Linked DNA regions of Homo sapiens. The protein of the gene in region 3 interacts with the protein of the main gene of each other region in a pairwise test. Each region holds a gene or a part of one and is shown on either strand. Other genes may lie near its edges.

What was found.
Region 1: the proteins of EMP1 (region 3) and CD37 interact in binary tests that used the Homo sapiens proteins (3 or more experiments, as listed by UniProt).
Region 2: the proteins of EMP1 (region 3) and HTR2C interact in binary tests that used the Homo sapiens proteins (3 or more experiments, as listed by UniProt).
Region 4: the proteins of EMP1 (region 3) and TMEM218 interact in binary tests that used the Homo sapiens proteins (3 or more experiments, as listed by UniProt).
Region 5: the proteins of EMP1 (region 3) and EDA interact in binary tests that used the Homo sapiens proteins (3 or more experiments, as listed by UniProt).
Region 6: the proteins of EMP1 (region 3) and TLCD4 interact in binary tests that used the Homo sapiens proteins (3 or more experiments, as listed by UniProt).
Region 7: the proteins of EMP1 (region 3) and MAL interact in binary tests that used the Homo sapiens proteins (3 or more experiments, as listed by UniProt).

What each region holds. Positions count from the first base shown.
Region 1 is NC_000019.10:49,334,046-49,338,205, forward strand, and holds the start of CD37 (leukocyte antigen CD37), read left to right. Parts: upstream 1-1,360; 5' UTR 1,361-1,495; coding exon 1,496-1,564; intron 1,565-1,668; coding exon 1,669-1,741; intron 1,742-2,863; coding exon 2,864-2,988; intron 2,989-3,101; coding exon 3,102-3,176; intron 3,177-3,879; coding exon 3,880-3,984; intron 3,985-4,160. UniProt on the Homo sapiens protein: Structural component of specialized membrane microdomains known as tetraspanin-enriched microdomains (TERMs), which act as platforms for receptor clustering and signaling.
Region 2 is NC_000023.11:114,902,086-114,905,585, forward strand, and holds part of HTR2C (5-hydroxytryptamine receptor 2C isoform a precursor), read left to right. Parts: intron 1-3,500. UniProt on the Homo sapiens protein: G-protein coupled receptor for 5-hydroxytryptamine (serotonin).
Region 3 is NC_000012.12:13,217,084-13,220,441, forward strand, and holds the end of EMP1 (epithelial membrane protein 1), read left to right. Parts: 3' UTR 1-2,858; downstream 2,859-3,358.
Region 4 is NC_000011.10:125,098,127-125,101,626, reverse strand, and holds part of TMEM218 (transmembrane protein 218), read left to right. Parts: intron 1-105; coding exon of another isoform or gene 106-183; intron 184-323; coding exon 324-426; intron 427-3,500. UniProt on the Homo sapiens protein: May be involved in ciliary biogenesis or function.
Region 5 is NC_000023.11:70,025,113-70,028,612, forward strand, and holds part of EDA (ectodysplasin-A), read left to right. Parts: intron 1-2,744; coding exon 2,745-2,924; intron 2,925-3,500. UniProt on the Homo sapiens protein: Cytokine which is involved in epithelial-mesenchymal signaling during morphogenesis of ectodermal organs. Functions as a ligand activating the DEATH-domain containing receptors EDAR and EDA2R. May also play a role in cell adhesion.
Region 6 is NC_000001.11:95,144,855-95,148,354, forward strand, and holds part of TLCD4 (TLC domain-containing protein 4), read left to right. Parts: intron 1-3,500.
Region 7 is NC_000002.12:95,042,708-95,046,207, forward strand, and holds part of MAL (myelin and lymphocyte protein), read left to right. Parts: intron 1-3,177; exon of another isoform or gene 3,178-3,440; intron 3,441-3,500. UniProt on the Homo sapiens protein: May be involved in vesicular trafficking from the Golgi apparatus to the cell membrane. Plays a role in the maintenance of the myelin sheath, and in axon-glia and glia-glia interactions.

The DNA.
Region 1 (4,160 bases), on a different chromosome or scaffold from region 3:
CCAGGGACCTTCCCACCTCGAGCCTGTAGCACTTTCACTTCCCCAGGTACCCAGCCCCTGCCCCCAGCACCTGGGTGCTCCCTGGTCCAGAACAGGCTGCAGACTCTGAGAGGCACAAAAACAAGTGGGGAAGGGGGAGACAGAGAAAAGAAGACAGGCTGGGCACAGTGGCTCACGCCCATAATCCCAGCACTTTAGGAGGCCAAGGCAGGAGGATCACTTGAGCCCAGAAATTTGAGACCAGCCTAGGCAACACAGTGAGACTCCCATCTCTACAAAAAATGAAGAAAATTAGCCAGGCATGGTGGTGTGCACCTGTAGTCCCAGCTACTTGGGAGGCTGAGGTGCAAGGATTGCTCGAGCCTGGGAAGGTTGGGGCTGCAGTGAGCTATGATCGCACTACTGCATTCCAGCCTGGGCGACCCTGTCTCAAAAACAAAAACAAAAGAGAGATGAAGAGAGAAAGGAGGAAGGACCCAAAGAAGGGGCCAGAAGCAGAGAGAGGCCAGGCACAGTGGCTCACGCCTGTAATCCCAACACTTTGGGAGGCCAAGGCAGGAGGGTCGCTTGAGTCCAGGAGTTCCAGACCAGCCTGGGCAACCTAGTGAGACCCTATCTCTGTTTTTTTTTAATTAAATATAAAAAATACAACACTCCCACTCCATAGCAAGACCCCATTTCTACAAAAAATACAAAAATTAGCCAGGCATGGTAGTGTGCACCTGTAATCCCAGCTACTCAGAAGGCAGAGGTGGGAGGATAGCTTGAGCCCAGGCTACAGTGAGCTGTTTTCCCCACCGTACTCCAGCCTGGGTGAAAAGTGAGACCCTGTCTCAAAAAGAAACAAATATATAAATAAAATAAAGAAACACAGAGAGAGGGAGGATAGAGACCCCAGGAGGCAGGAGGACAGAGACCCAGAGGAGGGAGAGACTCTGCTGAGATAAGGGGACAGAGATGGGGAGTAGCAGGAAGGTGGGGACAAAGACCCAGAGAGGAGGAACAAGAGACCCAGGGCAGGAAATGGGAGACACAGCTGGATGCAGAGATGGGAGAGCTTAGCAGGCCATGAGGTCAGAGTGTCTGTGAGGTCAGCTGCTGTCCAGGGTCAGCCCTGAGGTCCCCATGCCCAGAGGTGGGTTCCAGTAGATCAGGGGTCCCTTTAGATCCCCCAGCGCCTGAGACATGGAGACCTGGGAGGGACTGCCCCATGAGTCCTTGGTGCCCACAAATTCCAAGGCCCCTCAGGTACCAGAGCATGTGTCCCAGTGGAGCAGGTGAGGGAGACAGGGACAGAGAGAGAGACAGAAAGCCACCTTACATGAAGCGGGAGTGGGTGGAGCCCCACCCCTGGAACTTCCTCTTTTGGGGTTCTTCCTTTCTCTCTCAGCTCTCCGTCTCTCTTTCTCTCTCAGCCTCTTTCTTTCTCCCTGTCTCCCCCACTGTCAGCACCTCTTCTGTGTGGTGAGTGGACCGCTTACCCCACTAGGTGAAGATGTCAGCCCAGGAGAGCTGCCTCAGCCTCATCAAGTACTTCCTCTTCGTTTTCAACCTCTTCTTCTTCGTGAGTTGCCTCATGGCTACCCAGCCGGGGCCCAGCCCCTGCCGCTAACCCAGCCCTCATCTTCCCCTGTGGCCCACCCCCGTATCCGCATCTCCTCTCCCCAGGTCCTCGGCAGCCTGATCTTCTGCTTCGGCATCTGGATCCTCATTGACAAGACCAGCTTCGTGTCCTTTGTGGGTGAGGGGGGCTGGGGCAGGTGGGAGGGCCTCCCCCAACCCAAGCAACTTCCTGGGGTCTCCCTTGTCTCAGGGAGACCTACGGTGCCCTACTCTGCAGGCAGGCTACAGGCTCCCATCCACTGCTCACCGGAGGCTTCTTGGAGCCTGAGTCTTCTTCCGGCAAATGGGGTTGTGCATACAAACAACAATGATCATGAGAGCCATTTCTCAAGCACTTCCTATCTGTCGGGACTTGTGGCTGGTCAGATGCCCCCACAAACCTTCCCCTCGCTTGAGGTTCAGAGAGGGGAAGCCCCTTGATGGATGTCATACAGCAAGGACGTAAAAGAGCCAAAATAACATTAATAATAGGAAAATAATAATGAAGTATGACCCTAAATAATAATGAAATATAACCCTAAACGCTCATATTTAAGAAGTCTTTGCCCTGTGTTGAGGACTGGGTTGAACACATGTCCTCATGTGTCTCTCAAAATGACCCTAGGGGCCGGGCGCGGTGGCTCACACCTGTAATTCCAGCACTTTGGGAAGCCGAGGCAGGTGGATCACTTGAGGTCAGGAGTTCGAGAATAGCCTGGCCAACATGGTGAAACCCTGTCTCTACTCAAAAATACAAAACGTTAGCCAGGCATGGTGGCACATGCCTGTAGTCGCAGCTACTAGGGAGGCTGAGGCAGGAGAATCACTTGAACCTGGGAGGCAGAGGTTGCAGTGAGCCGAGATCACATCACTGCACTCCAGCCTGGGGGACAGAGCGAGGCTCCAACTCAAAAAAAAACCCTAAGAAATAGATATCATCTCCTATGCCTCAGGGAGGTTTAAGGAGCCAAGCCAATGTCACAGAACAAGTGATAGGGCTGAAACTACTGGGGACGAGGAGGAGCTGAAGGAGGAAGGAGAGGGTAAGAGGAAGAGAGACAGAGATCCAGGGACGGGAAACAGGCCCAGAAAGAAGAGAAAGTTTCAGAAGGAAACAGGGACTCAGGGTGGGGCAGGGACAGAGTCCCAGAGAGAGGGGCACCAAGATACTGCTCCCCACTTGGGTGGCTGCCTAGGTGGGAAATGGGGCTGCCTGGAGCTGTGCCACACAGCTCATCATCACTCCCCTCACCTCTCCCAGGCTTGGCCTTCGTGCCTCTGCAGATCTGGTCCAAAGTCCTGGCCATCTCAGGAATCTTCACCATGGGCATCGCCCTCCTGGGTTGTGTGGGGGCCCTCAAGGAGCTCCGCTGCCTCCTGGGCCTGGTGAGTGCACCATCCCTCTCCGTCCCTAGGAACACTCCTATCCCCACCCTCAAAAATGGCCTGGGCCGGGGTTGCAGGGGTGGTCAGCCTGATCTCTCCACTCTGCTCCCCAGTATTTTGGGATGCTGCTGCTCCTGTTTGCCACACAGATCACCCTGGGAATCCTCATCTCCACTCAGCGGGCCCAGGTGAGCTTCCTGCAGTGGCCACCACCCACCCCCAGCAGGGAGGAGAGGGAAGGGAGTGGTGGGAGAGGGTGGAGAGAGACCGAAACAAGGGCAGACAGGGGCTAACCTAGATAAAGAGAAATAAGAGGCTGGGCCTGGTGGCTCACGCCTGTAATCCCATAATCCCAGCACTTTGGGAGGCTGAGGTGGGAGTCCAGGAGTTTGAGACCAGCCTGGGCAACATAGTGAGACCCCATCTATATTTAAAAAAAAAATCCGGGTGTGATGGTGTGCACCTGGGGTCCCAGCTACTTGGGAGGTCGAGGTGGGAGGATCACTTGAGCCAGGGAGTTTGAGGCTACAGTGAGCCATGCACTCAGCCTGGGTGACAGAGTGAGACCCTGTCTCAAAAAATAAATTAATAGAAAGACACACCGACCTGGACCAAGGGAGACAGGCATAAACAGCTCCAAAGGGAAACACACGGGAAAAAGAGAGAACAAGAGAAAGAAATAGACGCCCTGAAAGAAGAGACAGAGACTTATGAGCCGTAGAAATAGTGGAAGAAACAGAAAGACAGACCTGAAGTACACAGAGCTAGCCATTCAGTAAGGATTTGAGACTGGCCCAGAGATGCACAGGGCCCGCCTGAGGCTGGCACAGCCTGAGAGGGGGAGGGGTGGGGCGGGGAAGATAAGGCCCAGCCTCACTGGTGGCCTCTCAGCTGGAGCGAAGCTTGCGGGACGTCGTAGAGAAAACCATCCAAAAGTACGGCACCAACCCCGAGGAGACCGCGGCCGAGGAGAGCTGGGACTATGTGCAGTTCCAGGTAAGCCCCCCTCCTCCAGTTCCCTCCCGGACTGACCCGCCTCAGCCCTGTGCTTGGAGGAGACTCCACCCCAACGTGGGCCCGACCCCCAGCTCTACGATCCTAACACACCCCAATCCCTCCCAGGCCCGACGCTCCCCACTCCCCAGATGACACAACTGTCCCCGGCGTCGCCT
Region 2 (3,500 bases), on a different chromosome or scaffold from region 3:
CTTACTTAATTTTTCTGAAGTTAACTTCATCAAATAACATGTGCCTTGCGGAATTTTTATAAAAATGAATGATGAATTTAAAGTGTTTTGTTGCCAGTATTGCTGTTATTTATATTTACCAGACATGATAATATCGCATGAATTACTATTGGTTGAAATAAAAATGCTAAGACAAACTTAACACATTTGCTGAACTTAACTCTCTAGCACTTAAATAACTTAATGCATTAACATAGAACAGCAGTTCTCAAGCTCTTTGGTGTCAGGACCCCTTTATACTCTTCAAAATAATCGAGGACTCCAAAAGAGTTTTTGCTTATGCGGCTTATATTTATTGATATTTATGGTATTAGAAATTAAAACTGAGAAATATTTAAAATATTTAGGAATAATTTTATTTTCAATAATAATAATAAACCCATCTAAGGTTAACATAAAAACATATTTTTGAAAACTATAATCTCCAAAACAAATCAGAGAGAAAACAGGCATTGTTTTACAGTTTTGAAAATTTATTGTATTTATTTATTTATTTATTTATTTTAGATGGAATTTTGTTCTGTCACCCAGGCTGGAGTGCAGTGGCGGGATCTCGGCTCACTGCAACCTCTGCCTCCTGGGTTCAAGCGATTCTCCTTCCTCAGCCTCCCGAGTACCTGGGATTACAAGCATGTGCCATCATCCCTGGCTAATTTTTGTATTTTTAGTAGAGACTGGGTTGCACCATGTTGGCCAGGCTGGTCTTGAACTCCTGACTTCAGGTGACCTGCCCACCTCGGCCTTCCAAAGTACTGTGATTACAGGCGTGAGCCACTGCACCCGGCCCACAGTTTTGAAAATCTCTTTTAATATCTTGTTTGACAGAAAGAAAGCTAGATTCTCATATATGTATCCACATTCAAACAGTTGTGATATGTTGTTTTGGTTGAAATTTATGAAGAAAATGCAGTTTTAAAGACAGTTAGGAAAGGAAAACCTAGCAAGCTTTCTAACAGTCTCAGACACCCCCCTAGGGTCCTTGAATCACACTTTGAGAACTGCTGACACTTACCTTTTATTTTTTTTTAAAGTATTGAATAAGACAGTGTACAACATATATTGTTATTAATGCTGCTTTTGTTGTTGCTTTTTATAATTTCCTCATATGTTTGAAATAACTTGAATTTCTTCTTGTTTTGTTGATTGCATTCATGGTTTCTAAAAACAAAAGAAAATTAATGACAGTGCAGATTTGGTAAACTGGTTAAGCTACTTTGCCAAATAATACCTGTCTTATAAAGTTTTTAACCAAATTGAGATAATACATTCTACATCTGTAATGTCAGTAATATACATGGCTCAGTGCCTGGCACATAGGATACACTCAATAAATGGCAGCTATTAGAATCACCCTTTCCTCAATGCACAAAAAATAATACAAATAGATGCCAGGGATAAAATTGGCCTCATCTACCCAATAACAGCTTCAGCTTATCTACAGTGACTTTGCTACCCTCTCTTGCTGTCCCTTGACAAGGCCTACTTTAGGCTCAAGAATCCCTTAGACAAGTGAATAAATCATTTAACAGAAGCGAGCTAACATTACTCTGGAGTTGGTCTCTAAGTGATACAAACTTCCACCAATCTCATGGCCTGTGTGTGAGGCCTTCCCCAGAAACGTCCAAGTGTGTCTATGAATACTTAGAATATATGCAGCATTTCCTGTGGGAAATTGAAGGTACATGCCTCAGTCATGATGCCTCCAGGGTGAAAGCAAATTCCCCAGATTGAGTCTCTAGCCCCACGCTGTAGTATCTAAGGTGCTGGGTGGTTGGCAAGGTAGGAGATTGAAGAGGGAAACACCACTCCTGCATCCTTTATTGCTTTTGCTGTAAGGAACCTGGAAAGGTATAACAGAGTTTCCTATCAACACATTGTCAGAAAATGGCCTTCTTCCCTACAGTTTTATCAAACAGGTGGTTGAATGTTTCTATTTAGGGATCCAAATGTTTTTTTGCTCTGGAAGGAATCACTTCCAAGATTAGCAGTGGCCAATCAGTTTTGGAGACTTTTTAAAATCTGAGGCTTAACAGTGATGTTACTCTGTTTCAGAAAGGACCTCTATGTCTTCTTTTCTCTTTTTTTAAATTGAAAAAAATTATTAAACTTTCTGTTTCATAGTTGACTTTCAAAGATTACAAAGGTAGAATTATAAAATAAAGCCCATGAACTCATCATCCAGCTCCAAGATTTATCAGCCTGTGGACTGTCTTGTTTCATCCATACTTTCATCCACTTCTCCCTCCCGTATTATTTTGAAATAACTCCAAACATCATAATACTTCATCTGTAAGTGTTTTAGTATGTATATCAAAAAATAAAAGAGCTGTCTTTTTATATAACCACAATATCAATACCTCACCTAAAAATTAATGAACAATAATTATTTAATATCATCCAAAGGCCAGTCATTGTTCAGATTTTTAATTGTGTCATGAAAATTTTTAACATGTTTTTGTTTTCATCAAGATCCCAAGAAGATCCACATATTATAATTACTTGATAGATCTTTTAAGTATCTCTTAATATATAAGTTCCCCCTCTAACATTTTCTCTTGTAAATTTTTTTAAAGAAACTCTTTCTTCTTTTAAAAATCTTATATTAACTTTCTGCAGACTAATCCGTCACTAAAATATGTTATTAAGGTTAAGCCAACACTGATGTCTTTAGGGCATGTTTGATCTGTGCTGTCTAGAGATTACCTTACGTTTATGATTTTTCACATAAAGATTTAAACAACACAGTCTGGCAGCTTTCTTAACTGCTTTTTTTTTTTTTTAACTCTTAAGAAATATATTCTGTGTGGTTCTGCTGTACTCTATATTCCCAAATTCCTGTTGAAATTTCCCAGGCATTTCATCAAACTTGGTGAAAAATCACTTTCTCTTTTCTCCTTCTAATAATTGTCATTCCACCCCATCTAGGTGCAAAGGTCTCTGCTTTAGGATCTGGCCATGCACTACTTGAGGTGACTTACTGTTTGCAGTGCCTCCTCATTTTCAGTCTTTCCTACTTTCTTGAATGGTGTGCCTAGGTTCAGAGCTATAGGTAGGCATGGACCAATACCCAGGGAAGTCTTGTCATATCTGTTGTGGCTTCCTCACCCTGTTACTTGGCTTCCTACTCTAGGAAAAGGCCAGTCATTTTAGAAATTCCATGTCTGAGGAAGAAGACTTAAAGATCACTTTCAAAACACTCTCTTCTTTCTATCTTCCCAGAGATTAAACATCCGTCAACATTCTCAGCAAGCTCTAGCAAAGAAGCATTGACTCATTGTTTTTTTTCCCTCTTGATCATCCAGCCAGACACTCTATACCTGACTAGGCATGTTAAAGCAACTAGTAAGGACTTTCTGTTTCAGGTTTGTCACAGTTGCTTGTGTGTTCTCTAAGGTCAGCAAGGATCTCTGAGAATGCATTTCTGTCTCCTCTCACAGTTCATGATGTAGACACCTACCAGC
Region 3 (3,358 bases):
TGTGAAATTTCTTTGAAATAGCCAGCTCCTCTAATGTGTCTTCAAAATATAAAGTGATTCACAAAGGCATGCATCACACCTATTTGTAGCAGCCCATTCATTACATAAACCAGGGCATACCTGTGTGGGCTCTGTGAGTGAAGGGAGGCTTCACTACTTTCTGTGAGCAGTAAGGACTGGTATCTTTCTGTGAGCAATAAGGACTGGATAAAGACTGCATATCCTTGTGTCGTGTCAGCACCAATACAATAAGGAGGGTTTTAATGTGAAGCAGGCAATCTTCCAGCCCCTTCTGGTCTTGGATGAAATAGTTGCACAGAGTATTGCACCAAAAATACACAATGGAGGCTGAAAAGTTCAACATATTTTAAGTCAATTAATCAAATTGCATTGATTCTTGATGCTTTCTTAGAGGCCTACATGATTTCTTAGATTGCTCTGATAAACTATCATAAGGGGTCCACCTCCCCTCATTTAGCTCCCCCAGGGATTTCTTTTCCCCCATGTCATACACCCAGTCCTAAATCAACCCCCAAGGCTATCCTTCCATCCCTTCTGCAGAGGGAACTTTTGTCAGACTCTGCAACAAACTCCTAGCTCTATCCAGAGTGTCCTCTGCTGCTAAGATTGGTATCTTTCTCCTCAAAAGCCTGGATGGTGAATGGGGGTGCATTAGTCAGAATTCTCCAGAGAAACAGAAAAAATAAGATTCGCGTGTGTGTGCAAACATATATATAAATAAATAAAAATATATTTATTTTAAGGAATTGACTCACATGATTTTGAAGGCAGGCAAGCCCAAAGTCTGCAAGGGGTGGGCCAGCAGAGAGCTGGTGCTACAGTGCGGGTCTGAAAGTTGCCAGAGTCCCTTTTATAGAGAAGCTTAAAAAATATTTGTTGAATTAAATGTCTTAGGTAGAGACAAATTGAATTAAAGTGGTTAAGTAAATACTCTTAGGTGAAATTTGTGCAAATTATGAGTATAAAGAGGGTGAGCTACAGAACTCTCCATGACCACTCAAGAATGGGACCCAAAGGCAAATGATAACTTATTCATTCATCAAGGGATAAACTTGAGTTATCAAATGGTTAATAGATAAAGATCCCACTCTGCCTTGGATTTAGCCATCGCAGTCCCTGTGTAAAACCCCACCGGCTTTCAGGCATGGAAAAAAATTTCACAAAGGCCTTGAAAGAAGGCATATGAAGACCAAAAGGATATTGAGCAGGGTTCCATACTTGAATAAAGGAAGAAACTCCCTTCAATGTTTACTAAGAAATAGTTAGAATATAGCATATCCTGTATAGATGAAATGTCCTAGCGAAAATGTTTAAATGTATTTAAAGAAGAGCTAGATTTTGTGGGGGGAGAGAAGGGAATAGGATAGGCTGGTGGGAGGAAGAATGAAAAGAAGAAAACTTGTTGGAAATTTTGGAGTAGATTGTGAGGAGGGGTGACTCACTTTAAAGATGTATCATTTGGAGGTAGACACGATTTTCAGAGCACAAAACAGATAAGGAAAGATGTATGCTGATTGTGTGGAGCCCAAGGGAAGGCGGGGTTTTGGAGTCTTACGTGGCTTTGTTTCTGAAAGGGAGACATGTGAAGCCTACTCCTGAGGCGGGAGGCTGGGGACATGACCATCAAGACCTATAATTGATAAACAACTAGGGGCTGGGTGCTGCACCTACATGCTGGGGAAATAGAAAATGAAGCAGACATGTGTCCCATCTTCTTCCAGCTTTCAGTCTAGCTTGGAAATAAATCTCATACCTAGAGAAAATGGAGGATCTGTGGGATGTAGATGAGGTGGGAGCATGAATGCCTAGGGAGGGAAGAAGAAAGATTTTCAGTTCTTCAGCTTTTCCTCATGACCCTATCTCATGCCATGAGCAATTGTCTGGCATCTCCTGTGGGTTGGACCACTGCTGCATTTCTTACTTGCCAACATCACTTTGTCCCAAATGCCATTCCTTTGTTCCAGGGCCTCCTTGTCTTCCATCTGGGGAACTGGAGGTGAGAAGCATTATAATAGCCTCTCTGCCTTTATCTACAATCTCTCCAACCTGTGCTTTATGCTGATGTCAGGATGGGCGTTGATGGATGCTTCTATCACTGTCGGGGCAGGGAGGGCCAGAACACTAGCATAAGATGTCAATATGTCTATCCATATGTCAGGTCCATACTCAACTCAAGCTTCTGGTTAACTGCTGATCTATTGGCAACTCCAGTTCCCAATAAGTTCCTCATCTCCTTCTGAGACCACCTCAGTGTGGACTTAATCGTCCACATCACTGTCAGCATTTTGGTTAAAACCATTCAACAAGTCTCCAGGAAGCTCCAAACTTTCCTTCATCTTCCTGTCTTCTTCTGAGCCCTCCAAACTCTTCCAACCTCTACCCGTTACCCAGTTCCAAAGGTGCTTCCACACTTTCAAGTATCTTTATAGCAATGCCCCACTCCTGGTACCAAATTCCTGTATTAGTCTGTTTTCACACTGCTATGAAGACATACTTGAGACTCGGTAATTTATATAGAAAAGAGGTTTAATTGACAAAAAAGCTAACAAAGTGAGCCCTGATTCAAAAATGACTGTCTACACTTGGCACATGAGGGACTTTATGATATTAAGAGATTAATTAAACAACAGTGGATGGGGAGGAAGAACAGACTTTTGAGCTCTTCCCAATATAGGAATGTGTTAGTTCTAAAAATTTTCTTAAGTTGTTTGCTTGGAACTCAGAGTATATTTTTCCATACGAAAAATTCAGAACTATTTTATTTATGATATGGGCTAAAAAGACTTCTGTAATCTAGCTTGGAAACTTAATAATCATTAAACTTATTTTCAATGAGATACGACTGTTTAAATTCTGAAACCTGGAACCCTCTGTTGCCCTGCAAATGCTTTAGGAAAAGAAGAGTGTGTCTGATGGAGGATAAGATGGAAAGTGAATATGGATCCATATTCAGAAGACACGGTTGCATTACAGCAAAGGAACAGCTTTTTGCTGGCCATGCTAAGCATTTGACATTGATGTGGGAGAACATGGCATTCAGTATGACTCTGTCTGGATATATATAGTTTTGTAAATTGGGTGTTCTTAAGTTGAGACTGCATGTTTCATTCCAAAATCAATCTTAGTTTTCCCACTTGCATTAGCATATTGTATTAGTCCGTCTTCACACTGCTATAAAGACATACCCGAGACTGGGTAATTTATAAAGAAAAGAGGTTTAATTGACTCACAGTTCTGCATGGCTGGGGAGGCTTCAGGAAACTTATAATCATGGCAAAAGGGGAAGAGGTACGTCTTACATGGTGACAGGGGAGAGAGAGCATGCAAGAGAAGGGAA
Region 4 (3,500 bases), on a different chromosome or scaffold from region 3:
GTTCTAAAAACAACAGAAGTGGAGGTGGAGAGGGGATGCTTTGGTTTTTCTTGATTATGACTTTGGGCAGAAGTAAAAATAAAAACTACACATTTCCATTCTTAGGAATTGGGAATTACCAAGAATAAATGGGAATGCACCCAGCTGGTACCTGTCTAGGAAGAAGGACTTTGGGATGAAGAGGTTGTTGACAGCAGGCCTCTGGACATTGTTAAGGGACTGAAACATAGAATATTGGCTCCAAGGAAGAGACTGTCCAGACCTAACTGATCAAAGAAGAAATTATAGACAGTGCTTTTAATAATTTGTCTTTTTAACCCCAGGTTCTCTGTCATTTTTTTATTCTTCGGTGCTGTGATCATCACATCAGTTCTGTTGCTTTTCCCGCGAGCTGGTGAATTCCCAGCCCCAGAAGTGGAAGTTAAGGTAAAGCTGTTGCTTTCGTTTTGCCTCCTGAGCTGTGATTCTTATTTCTCTTGGTCTGCACATCCGTCCTGCCCTTGATGTTCCCTGACATCGGGTTGCCTGAGATGTCAGAATTGTAAAGTTCAACCAATGACGGGGAAAGTTCAGAGGGAGTTTTAAGTTCCCCTGCCCCTTCACTCAGGAAAAGAATCTTACTCTGAATTCCATCTACAACCCCACCAGGCAGTTATTTGCCTGATTTGGTCTCATCTTCAGTTTGCATCAAGTTGAAAACAGCCTGTTGGAAAGCCACCTCGTACCATGGGGACAGAAAAAAAAGAAAATGAAATAGGGATAGTCACAGGCCTGCACCCGAGATGAAGTGTTCCCATTCCTGGCAGCCTGGGCTCCTAACTGCAGATCCTGGGCTGAAATTGATGTGGTGCCCTGAGGGTGCTGAGGACATGCTTCTCCAACTGCATGTGCTAGAATTTTCCCAACAGTCTTCTGGGAGTTCTTTGGTCCTCATACCTGGGACCATACCTGCCAGCACCCATGTCTTTAAATGGATTTTTATCATCTCTCTCAGAATCCTTCTCTGGAGTTCTTTACCATGGCTTTACCATGCATGGCTGGTCTCAGACCCATGGGATCTTGACAATGACATTGACCTTTTCTGTCCCATTACTCCTTCTCACAGCTTTCCTCTCAACCTTCATTTTGATGTTTTAAGTGATAGTCATGAAAATAGCTAACATTCTTTAAGGGATTTCCGTGTGCCAGGTCCTGTGCCAAACACTTTGTTTGCACTGTCTCATTTAAACCTCAGGACAGCCCTAAGTAGTATGACATAGGTACCATTATTATCCCCATTTTATAGGTAAGAACACTGAGTCTGTCAGAGGTTAAGGTAACTTGCCCAAGGTCACATAGCAAGAGGCAGAACAGGGATTCAAGCTGAGGTCCGTCTTCAAAATCTTCAGTGTTGAGAACTTAACAGAATATTCAGGGCAGTCCCAGAGAGCTCATGGGTTAGCATTTTGACACTAGACAACAACAGTACACAAGATTATATGTGTAACTTTTGAACTAAAATTGACACTGTAGGATTAACTATGGCAAGAGGAAGGAAATTAAACTCCAAGGGAAATAGTACTTTACCACACACACTTAAGGAATTATTTCCATGGACACAAGTTTGTTGTCAGTATTTGGAAAACACTCTGGAGGTGTGGGTACCACATGTGTGAGCCAGGGGCAAATTCACACCTCACTTATCTTTTTTTTTTTTTTTTTTTTTGAGACAGTCTCGCTCTGTCGGCCAGGCTGGAGTGCAGTGGCATGATCTCGGCACACTGCAACCTCCGTCTCCCGGACTCAAGCAATTCTCCTGCCTCAGCCTCCCGAGTAGCTGAGATTATAGGCATGTGCCACCACACCCAGCTAATTTTTGTATTTTTGGTAGAGATAGGGTTTCACCATGTTGGCCAGGCTGGTCTCAAACTGCTGACCTCAGGTGATCCACTCGCCTCAGCCTCCCAAAGTGCTGGGATTACAGACGTGAGCCACCGCACCCAGCTGCTTTCCTTGTCTTTTAAGGGGGAGAGTGATGTGGGCTGCCACATTTCTGGATGCTGCAGATGTAAACATCGGGAGAAGGGCACAGAGCAAACACATTTTTGAAATCAATCCCTCGATTGTCTGTCATATGAGTTTCAGACCCAGGAGACAAGAATGGGGTTTGAGCAAAATACTTTTGTCAGCATGGCCGGCAGAATTGGAGTTCTCATTTTCAGGTTTTGAGAGCGGGCCTCTGCAGCAGCCTGGCTCAATGCTGTATCAATAATACATGGCCTGGGCCTTCTGCACCCAAGGCCTGCTAATTGGCTAATTAAAAAGTGAAACGTGTCGAACGAGCAAACATGTGGCCCGCAAGAGACTTGTTCAGTACCGGAGCCAAGGTCAAAGTTATGTTAAAGCTGTTTTATCAAACTGACCTTTGTTGTAAGTTGACTGTTGGGGTAATCTCTGGAGCAGCTGAGGTGTCTTTGGACCTCAGTGATCCTACTAGGGCTCGGGTCTGAGAGATACTTTGTGTATGGCCGCTGTGTTAGTTTTCTGTTGCTGCTGTAACAAATTATGTGAACTAATGGCTCCCAACACAGATGTATTATCTTACAGTTCTGTAGGTTAGAGTCCAACATCAGTCTCACTGGGCTAAAACCAAGGGGTTGGCAGGGCAGCATTCCTTTCCAGAAGTTCTAGGGGAGAATCCATTTCCTTATCCTTTCCAGCTTCTAGAGGCTGCTCGTATTCCTTGGCTGACAGCCCCCTTCCTCCATCTTCAGAGCCAGTGACATCACACCTCACTGATGCTTCCATCCTCACCTCTCTTGCTCTGACCCTCTCTCCCACCTCCCTATTCAACTTAGAAGGATCCTGTGATTAGATTGGGTCCACCTGGATTGGATAATCCAGATTAATACCCCTTGTTTTAAGGGCAGCTGATTGGCAATCTTAATTCTCCTTTAACATATAATCTAACATATTCACAATTTCTGGGGATTAGGATGTGGATATCTTTGGGCCATTATTCTGTCTGCCACAATTGCCTTTCAGCTGTTTTGGATTCTCCTAGGTACTGGGATTTCAAAGTTTCTGTGAAGTCAGTCAGCCACTTGGTTGGTGGTGTTGCTCCATTAGGTCTATAGATTAAATTGCTTTTTCCTGCCCAAATTTAAGCACCACCATTTGGATCTGGGGAGAGTGGAGCTCTGGAAGGGGTCAGTGGACAAGTGGGTAGAGCCAACACCAATTATAGGGTTTTGTCAGCAAAGACCAACATCTTTGGGGCCTCAAGTGTAAGGCCAGGCAGCCCACTGTCTGCTTTGGGGCAAGTTACCTATCCTTTTAGTGTTTTAGTATCTCAGGTAAATGGTCATTTTCCCTGCCCCGTGGCATGGGACTCTTCCGCTGATAGCTTTAAAGAGTCACCTTTCATTTTGAAAATGAACCCTCCTGAAATGGCAATGGATTGATGATTTTGGGGGTTGGGTCTTAGATACATGGGAGTTTATTATACTATTGCATTTTTA
Region 5 (3,500 bases), on a different chromosome or scaffold from region 3:
ACTGGAACAAAGCAGGAGTTTTTTTTTTTCTCAAATGCCTTCTAACATTTTCATAAGTGAACATTCTCTGTTTTCACTGCAACCATTAGTCTCTTGGACTGGAGGAGTTTCTGGCTCTAATTCTTCCAAAATTACATTAGCAATTACAGGAGACTCACATTCTTGAAGGTGAAGTTTGTGCTACCCACAGAACACCCTCTAGCTTGAAAATCACTGTTAGGCTTGGAAATCTTGGAACACAGGACAGCCTAATATGCACCAACTTCTGTGTCTGTGCCACCTAGAAAATAAGGAGGGAGAAGCAAACCTTACAACCAGGCTAAGAAAGCTTCCTGACTGCAAGGGGTAAGCCACCCCTCCTTATAGAAACTCAGTCTCATGAGGAAACAGAGAAATCATTGAGGCCAAGCTCCTTGTTTCACAGATGTAGAAACTAAGGCTCAAGGAGAGGAAGGGATTTGCCCAAAGTGTGTCTGTGGCAGAGCTGGGGCTTACATCCTTATCTCCTGAGTACAGATTTTGTGTTCTTTCCACTACACTAGCTGGAATTGAAACTTGGGCTCTGAATAAGCCTGATTTGGAAGCTGCCCAAATCTGAAAGGAGATGGTTTTCCTGTTCAGCATCTTGAAATTGGCTAGATCTAGAAACGGGGCAGATCCAATCTTTTGCTGCTAAGTGCAGAGAAACCTCTAAAGCTCATGCCTCTAGGTCTTTAAGGCTACAGGGACTCTTCTGGGAGAGATGTTCTCTGGACCTTCCTTTCCTTCCTTTCTGAGGAAGAGACCCCACGATGACCCCATGGTTTCATTCCAAATGCAGATGTGGTTAGACATAGACAAATGGCCTCTTGAGTGGCATTGCCATGAGGATTGGGTTTCTTGGCCATGAGGCATTGTTCTTAAGGGAGGACCTGATAAATCAGGACAAGATTCTCCTGCCTAAGTGTCTGGGGAGCAAGAAGTCAGAGTCAGTAAGAAGGTTTTTAGTGAGACTAGAGAAGGTTGTATTTAAAACTAAGAAACTACCTCAGGTGAAGACATTGTGATGAAGTCTGGAAACAGGCTTCCATTCCTGAAACTTTCCATAAAATTGTGAGAAGGTGGTGAAGGAAGGAAGAAGACCTGTGCCTACATGTAGTCTTTGAGTGGAGCTGCACAGAGCAGAGGAAGTCAACAGGAAGAGCTGGAGGTTTTGGTTCAAGACCACAGTTATGACTCATTTAAGATAACTACATCCTGGTGGGAATGTTGAAAGGACTGGAATATGAAATAGGAGGGTCGAGATTGTTCTAGAAGGATAGCAAGGAGGAAAGGGGGAAGAGTTGGTGGGCATGATTAATAATACATTTGAGAATGGGACTTCTGAGGAAAGACTTTGGGAAGCTGGATTATTTAGCCTATAGAAATAGGGGTTGGTGGGTAACTTAATTTCTTTTCATATATAAGGATTATTATGTATATGTATATTCTTCTCTGTCTACACAAATAGAATAAGAGCTTAAACTGCCACAAGAGGGACATCATTTAATATACCAGAGAACTTCCTAACAGTGAGCAGTGAGGGGCAATAAACATTGGAACATGTTACTATGGAGTTTGCAGAATTTCCTTTCCCAGAGATCTTTTAAAATAGAGTTTACAGAGGTCAGCTGAGAGAGTGAAACTTGCTGCCTCCTCCTCAGCTCCCTCTACTCTCTGTCTCTGCTTCTTTCCTGTTTCTCAATATCTCTCTCTCTCCCTCCTCCTCTTTCCGTGCCCCTCTTCCTCCTTCTCCATTCCCCCATCTCCAAAACTCCTTCCCATTCCTCATTCCCGACTAGCACTGTCCCCATCCCAACCCCCATTTCCTGTACATCCTGACTCCTGGAGGAACCTTCCTGGAGCTGATACTGTTCCTAAGGCCAGGCTGTACGGCTTCCTCTTGTTATCGACATCAAGTCCACCAAACTGGGCAGTAAACATAAAAGCTCCACATTCTTCAACAATAGCCCTTTCTAAAAAGAACCACAAAGTGACCCATAGGTCTAATCACTTGGTAGAGAAATTCTCATCCTTTGGACTCAGCTGAAATGTAACCTCCTTTTTGAAACCTTCTCTGACCTCTTCAGCATTTGGTCCCTACCCACTAAGGTAGCACTTCTACTATCCCATGACTGTGTCTGTTTCCCCACAGACACAGACTGATCTCCTGGAGGGCCACTTATTTCTATATGCTCAAACCTAGCTTTGTAAATGCATATTCACAAAAGGGAGTGGGGGGAGGGGAGAGAAAGCATAAGACAGACGGAGACAGGGAGACAGAGATGTGTGATAAAGGTATCCAACTCTTTAGCAGGGCCTCCCAGAGAGCTGACTTTGTGTCCTCAGAAGTCTGTAGAACTCCTGACAGTACACTCATCACAGGAAATAACTACAAATGTAACACTGAGGCCAGGCGCGGTGGCTCACGCCTGTAATCCCAGCATTTTGGGAGGCTGAGGCAGGCAGATCACCCGAAGTCAGGAGTTTGAGACCAACCTGGCCGACATGGTGAAACCCCGTCTCTACTAAAAATACAAAAATTAGCAGGTCGCGGTGGCACGCGCCTGTAATCCCAGTTACTCCAGAGGCTGAGGCAGGAGAATCGCTTGAACCCGGGAGGTGGAGGTTGCAGTGAGCCGAGATCGTGCCACTGAACTCCAGCCTGGGCAACAGAGCAGGACTCCGTCTCAAAAAAAAAAGTAACACTGAATCCTATTTTTCAGGAAAGAAAGCAGGACCTCCTGGACCCAATGGCCCTCCAGGACCCCCAGGACCTCCAGGACCCCAGGGACCCCCAGGAATTCCAGGGATTCCTGGAATTCCAGGAACAACTGTTATGGGACCACCTGGTCCTCCAGGTCCTCCTGGTCCTCAAGGACCCCCTGGCCTCCAGGGACCTTCTGGTGAGTTCCCCTGTCTCTCCACCCCACCAGGTGCCTTTAAAGTACTTTAGGAGAGCAGGAGTGGGTGATCCTGAGAGCAGTTTCAAACGGTGGAGATGGGGTTGGTGTGCAATAAGGGATGCAGATCTCCTAGCCCAGTGTAAAACTAGGAATTGGACAAGCCAGTAGGGCCTGGCCTGCTCTAGCTTCTTATATCTACCAAACTGTCAAGGACAGGCCACCTGTTCTTGCCCCATCTCAACCCTTCTGTTACAAGCCCTCCCTGACTCTTGGCCTCCCTGTAGTGGACCAGTAAAACTCATATGAGCCAGAGACAGAGGCCCTGGTGGTTCACAGGAGTTCCAGTGGGGAATAGATGTAATCTTCTGTGATTCCCAGCATCTAGCTCCACATGCTGATGTTTGCATAGAAATAGGCTATGGAGTAGAAAGTTGAGGACTGAACAAAATGACAAGCCCTAGGATAGTTTCATCTTGTGAAGTCTGAAGTGCTTTTCCCATAGCAAGTAGTCACTAATGGTCAAGAAGTTAGAAACTTAAGAGTCACTCAGGCTGTGGATGAAGCAAACCCAGGCAC
Region 6 (3,500 bases), on a different chromosome or scaffold from region 3:
TAATTTTTGTGTTTTTAGTAGAGACAGGGTTTCACTAGGTTGGCCAGGCTGGTCTTGAACTCCTGACCTCAGGTGATCCACCCACCTTGCCCTCCCAAAGTGCTGGGATTACAGGCATGAGCCACTGCACCCTGCCAGAGTTTTAAAAAGTTGGTTGCAATTTTTTTGTGTGTGTACAACTTATTAATCTCACAAGATTTCAAACACAAAATGGCTCTGATGACTTCTTCACGTGCTTTAGAGCATTTTATGTCCCCAAACATCACTGTGCATTTGTAAACCTCAGTGAGTCAGAGCAGCCGTGGCCTTATTTTTTGTTGTTGCTATTTAGTTGAAGTTAATACTAACCATAAAATGGATTCAGCAAGTCTCTAAAGTTTGCTATAATTATCTTTCATTGAAATTTCCTTTTAAAATTCAAGAAATTCTGTCAGTGTCTGAGTATTTATTTGAGAATGGTCATATTTGATTTGAAATTCCCTTTGAACCAAATTGTTTTGCAGGCATCTACTTTTATGATTCAGACTGTGAATTTAATAAGACTCTAGTTGTTTTTTTTTGTACTTTACAGTGATGTATCGGGTTCATACATGTCAAAGTTCTTTTCACCCAAAAAGCAAGAATTATTTCTCCACATATTTTCAAAAAATAAGCAGTATGATTATTTTGTCTTAAGACTAGCACAAAAATATTGTTCAAATGCATTATACTAGAGATACCATTACTTTAAAAAATCTTTTCTAACATATGAAGATAGATGGAATGGTAGGAAAGAGAAGGGGGTACATACGTTCTCTGATTAAATGTTGAACTATTTTCATTTCCTCTTTCCTGTGGTTAGGATAGGTAAAGGCATTTGAATGTTAGGTAGCTGCAAGTCAGAGAAATAGGAAAGGGTACAGAGAGATGGAAGCCAAGATGAAAATGAAATGAAATTGAAGAATATTTTGCATTATCTAGTCTTATCACTGCCATTCTATGACACAGGAAATACCATTTGGGAAACTGAATTTCTATTTGAAAAAGGAGTCTGGGATTATATAAAATTCATTTAGGTATTCAGTGGTGTTTTCTCTTTTTCTCAAGTTTGCTCCTGCTTCTCACTCCAGCTTTTTTTACAAAGGACTTAAGCTGTAAGGTGGAGAGTGCAAAGTAGGACAAGGAGGCTGTATTTTGAGTAAAATATGTATAAATGTCTTAAAATTCAGCTTCCAGTTTGAAACATACAGGTAAACACACATAATTCTTTCTAGTGATCAGGAAAGAGTCTCTAAACATGAGTTGAGAGTGGTCTGAGCCATCTAGTATAAAAAGAAATGGAGGAGAAAAAATCACTGGAAATGCCCATTTGAGAGACAACAGTTTAGTTAAAAGTGAGAAATTGTTGTACTGAATTGTTACTTTTTCTGAAAACGTGTATACTTACAGGTGCTACATCTTATAATGTAAAAAAATTTTCTTAATTACTTATATTCACTTTCTTACCTATCACATTGAAAGTCTTATTGTGTTGAAATACTACTAATTTTTAAATGTTTCTCTAAAATTTAGCTGAGTTATATAATTTCTGTTGGCAATATTTACACTACTTGTGATTAGTAACTTAAAATTGCTATTCTAAAATAGTCATTAATCATTTCCTTAGAGTGCTATCCCTTTATATGCACAAACATTTCTTTTCCACCCTCTTTGAAAAAAAATTGAAATATTTTATCTTGGGTAATATCTTGGAATTTCTTTTTAGATACTAAGGAATCTAAATTTTCCTTTGCTAGGAATCTGATTTTAAATAATAAAATATAAAATTTTTATTAACAGAAGTTTCTGAAACTATAGTATAGACTTTTAATACAGAATAGTGTATGAGTGAGGGCAGGGTATTTGTTTTTCCTCCTCATTACAGAGGGAGATATTTGATTGGACCAAGTAATATTTAACTTTTCTGTACTGAATCATACACCATTTCCATCAGCTGAGGGCTTAGAATGCTTTCCATTTACCACATAACATCTCAAAAGAGAAGTGAATCTGAGGCCTGAGTGTCAGAAATAAAAAGTTAGGTTTTTCAAAAGGGAGCTTTCTGACTATGGTTACCAAACAGTAAAACAAGTTTGTAAGAGAGATTATATATTTTTAAATTTTATATAATTTTTGAATAGCAATAGAGAGTGGGCTGTATGACCATTTAAATGGAGTATTTTATTTTATATCAAGGAATTTAATTTTTTTTTTTTTTTGAGACAGAGTGTCGCTCTGTTGCCCAGGCTGGAGTACAGTGGTGCAATCTCCACTCACTGAAACCTTTGCCTCCCAGGTTCAAGTGATTCTTGTGCCTCAGCCTCCCGAGTAGCTGGGATTACAGGTGTGTACCACCATACCCAGCTAATTTTTGTATTTTTGGTAGAGATGGAATTTCACCATGTTGACCAGGCTGGTCTCAAACTCCTGACCTCAGGTGACCCGCCCACCTTGGCCTCCCAAAGTGCTGGGATTACAGGTGTGAGCCACCATGCCCGGCCAAGGAATTTACATTTTTATCCTGTGCTCAAGGTGTGCTTGGCATGAAAATTATAGACTTGTAAACCAGATAAATTGGATTAATTATTCACATTTCAAAATGATTCTTAGGTATTATAAATGATACTTGGTCAATGCCTTTAAATTGGTGAGAATCTTTGCTTATTTAAAATATGGCTTGATTTAGCATGATACATCTATTTTGTAACACACTATTAGGTCAAGTATATTGGTTTCTAAAGTTACAATGAAATTTTCTGATACCAAACCTAATATTAGTTGATATATTTTACTTTTAAAGATTTGGGATCATATTGTAGAGAAAAATTTATTGCACACCAGTAATTTTTAGAGAGAAAACTTTGCTGTACCTCTCATTTTTTATCCTAATGAAGTTTCATTACTTGTGAACTTCTCAATAAAGATGTGAGAAATCTGAAATTGTTGGGTAAAAAAACTTTATTGTATGGATGAATACACAGTATCCTAAGTATAGTTCTCTAAGTAACATAGAGCTTGGGAATTAGTCACATCATTAAATTTATTAACAAGATATATTCATAGAAACTTATGGTTTTTATGTTAAACTTATTCCTTCTATACAAGAAAACTTGACCTGGATCTTGAGAACATTGTGCTTTCACTTGGGTATTTCTTTTAAAAACAAATTTTCCGTATACATTTATGGTCCTCAATTTTTCTATTTAGAAATGTTTTCATAATAATGATAAAGAGGGACTAATAATAGCTACCCTTGTTTTCTTACAAATTTGTTACAAGAATCAAGTGCAATAGTGCATGTCAACGTACTTTAAAAACTGAAGCCTCCCAAGATAATAAATCTTCATATCATGATCCATTCGAATTGTTTTAAGGATATGGAGTTTGTTAAAGCCAGTAGATCTGGAAGTCATTCCCAGCTGATTGGAGCAGGAAACTTATCCTGCATTGATGCTGTTGGGGCTGGAGCTTGGAGCCAAGGG
Region 7 (3,500 bases), on a different chromosome or scaffold from region 3:
TTCAAAATAATTGCCTCTTTGCACTGCCACCTGGAGGCTGGGAGCCACCTGGAGTCTCCTTGATGAAAGGAAATGCTTGAACCCTCACATACTCCCTTGCTCTGGACAAATATTTGGCCAGCGGGGTCCTGAGGCCAGGCTGGAACAGATTGCTCTGTGCCCAGGAGTGCCTTAACTCCCTGGTGTGGGTGCCCTTCTTACTCTGTTTGCTCTCTGTACATTTAGTAGGTGGAGCAGGGCAGGAACCAGATTTGACTCATGGTTTACAACAAATCTCAGCTTTGCACACAGCGGGGCTGGAGGCTCACCCTCCCTGGAGCCCCACCTTCTGCTACTCCTTGACCCAAGCCCGGCTGCCCAGCCTTCAGCCTCCAAAGCCCTCACAGCTGCTTCAGCATCCTCTGAGCTTGGCATGTGCCCTTTCTGCCCTCTGGAGAGCCCCTCCCAGTCCTTTGGCCTGGTTAACCAGTTAGGTCCACCTCTCTCTCCAAGGCTCGACTGACCCTATGCACCTGTCCAGGCTGCTCTGCCCACTCGGGGCTGGTTGTCCACCTGCATGTTAAGTGGCTGCTTATGCATCTGTTTCCACTGAGCTGTCAGCCTCCTGCATGAACGACAACTTATTCCCAGGTATTGGTAGTGCTGGGCTCAGTGCCAGAAGCTTCATACTCACATCTGTAGTTTTAGCCAGTTCACACCAGCCCCCAGTGTGGGGAGACTGCTGTGAGTTGCCATTTGCAGAGAGGAAGCTGGGGCCAAGAGGCAGAATCACTTGCTGCAGCGTCCCACAGTGACTTCGGAGGACAGCTCCTCTGAGAACGGGAGTCCCCTGCCAAGGGGAGGGAGCTGGCAGGGCGCCTCTGCATTAGAATTCTCCCAGAGAAGACCGCGGCAAAGGCCTGTGCTCCAAAGGCAAGGGGCATGACTCAGCTGAGGCAACAGCTGTTTCTGTTCCACAGACACCTAGCCGGGAATGAAATCTCTCCTGACTCGGCTGTGCCTTTCCCGTATCCTCCTCTTCTTCTCAGGATTGCTCTTCACCCTCCTCCGCCCTGTCCCCCAGATGGCCCCTGTGACCCTGGGCTCTGCAGTCCTCCCTGGGCATCTCCTGGGCAGTGCTGAGCGGAAGGTCGACCGCCCCACTGCCCATCCCCTGGGAGCAAACCCCTGGCTTTCATGATGTCATCTGTGCTGAGACATCTGTGACTACCTTCACCTTCATATGTTTCTGGGACAGGCAAGGACTGGTGTAAGAGCGTCCCTAGGAACGTGGTTCCTCAGAGGCTTCTGGGTTGGAGGCTCCAGGGACATGAGACACACTCACCCAGGGCCCCCTGAATGGTGGGGTCCAAAAGGGGCACTGTGCAGCTGCAACGGTAGAGATATTCTGTGTAAGTCCCCTTGAGAGAGAATTTCTCACCTGAAGACATTATACTAAATGAAAGAAGTGAGCCACAAAAGTCCATATGTTGAATGATTCCATTCATATGAAAGTTCAAAATATGGAAGTTTGTAGAGATAGAAAGTAGATTAGTGGTTGCTTGGAATGGGGGCAGGGAAGCCACAGCTCATGGGATTTCTTTCCAAGGTGATGACAATGTTCCAAGATTGACTGTGGTGATGGACGCACGTATCTGCGAATATTCTGAAAACCAGGGAATCATACCCTTTCAATGGGGGAACTGCATGGGCTGTGAATTATAGCTCATAAAGCTGTTTAAGAAAAGAAAAAGATAATGTCTCCCCACCATCTCACTATGAAACATACTGCTATAAATATACCATGCAAAGGAAAAAAGTCGGCCTCATTTTTTAAAGGACTCACTTGCAAGGTGATGCCCCCAGAGGCTGGGTGGGGTCCTGAGATCTGTCAGGAGCTGGGGTTAAACCCATAGTGGGCTTTGTTCTATGGACAACTGTGGACAAGGTTCCCACTATAGACTGCAGGAACCTGCGAGCCAGTGTGGGGAGCATGGAATTTCCCAGGGAGCTGGAAAATAGTCTTCATCAGGTTGGTAAAAGCACACACTGGAACAGGGCAGAGTCTGGCCTGACCTCAAGGCCCTCCGCGCAGCTGCCGGAAGCTCAGAGCCCAGGCTGTGGCTGCAGCCAGCAAGGTGCACACAGGAGGCTGTGACCAGCTCTCCACACACTGACTTCCCCTCACTTTTCCTGCCATTGATTCCTCACACCAGTCACATCTTAAGCCACGTGGGAAGAATGGAGTGGAGTGAGATGACTCTGCAGACAGGAGCTGAGGACTACCTTCTCAGATTTGCCATTTCCAGCTGCCATCTGTGCATTAATTTACCTCATATGTATTTTACAGTTAATTTTTCCCAAAATAATGACATTGCAACCATAAGCATAGAAACAATGTCACTATCCGGTTTACCTTTGCCTATCCACGCTATTAGAGAACTCCAGACACCTGGCTCCACCCTGAGCCCTTCTTGCCTTCATCAGAAAAACCAAAGAGAGTAAAGGAGGAGGAAAATCGTTTCCTCACTGTGAAATTCAGTGTTCCTCGATAGCATGTGTATAGGTCACCCGTAAGCGCCTCTGGCCCACGGGGTCCCACTGGGATTCCATAACGGAGTCTCTTCCCAACCATGTGCAACCCAAGCTGCTCCTTTGGGGTTTGGTTCATAAGTGGCTCTAGTTCAGCCACACCCAGGTACCAGGAGACCAAGGCCCGTTAGCTGACTTGGACACCGATGCATGGCTGGATGGGTCTTCTCCTGGTCCCCACCAGTGAGGCAGCTGTGAGCAAGGCAGACCTCAAGCCCACCATCACCTGGTCAGGGAAAGCGCCATGTTATCCCTAACCCAATATACCTGTGTTTGTGCTGAGTGCTACAGAGAAGACGTGCAGGACTCCCTGAGACTGTGTGAACGAGGAAGCAACTTAAATTGGTCCTCCTGGGAGGGTCACGTAGCCACCAGGCAAAAGGCACTTAGGAGAGGGGTTCCCAGGCCAGGGCCTCCCTCTTCCCACTGGATGTGCCCGCTGGATCCTCCTCCTATTTCTCCATGCCACCCTCGCATGCCTCCTGAATCCAAGCCCTGCCTGTACCAATGTGCTCCTGTCCCTCCGTCAGTGCCCGTTATGGAAAAGGCCACATAATCTGTTGAATCTTAAACTCAACTGTGGATGAAATCTACACACACATCTTATTCCATGGTGGTCTGGGCATTTTTATTTAATTGATTTTGCTCCCATTTTTGTAAGATGCACAGTGCATCCCACCGGCCCTGCCACGTGCCTTCAGGCAACCTAAGATCCATCAGCAGAGGACGCTTTCTGGTCAGAGATGCCCACATCTGATTCCTTAGGGACAACTTGGTTTTAATAAATCCAAAGTCTTCATTGCACTGATTTTTCTACCCAAATGCAATTCTCTCCTGATTGCTTCTCAGTCAAGCAGCTCAGAGAACACCTGTGAAGACAGCGGTATCTCTCACCCAGCAGGTGGGCAGCAGGTGCAGGGAGGTGGGGG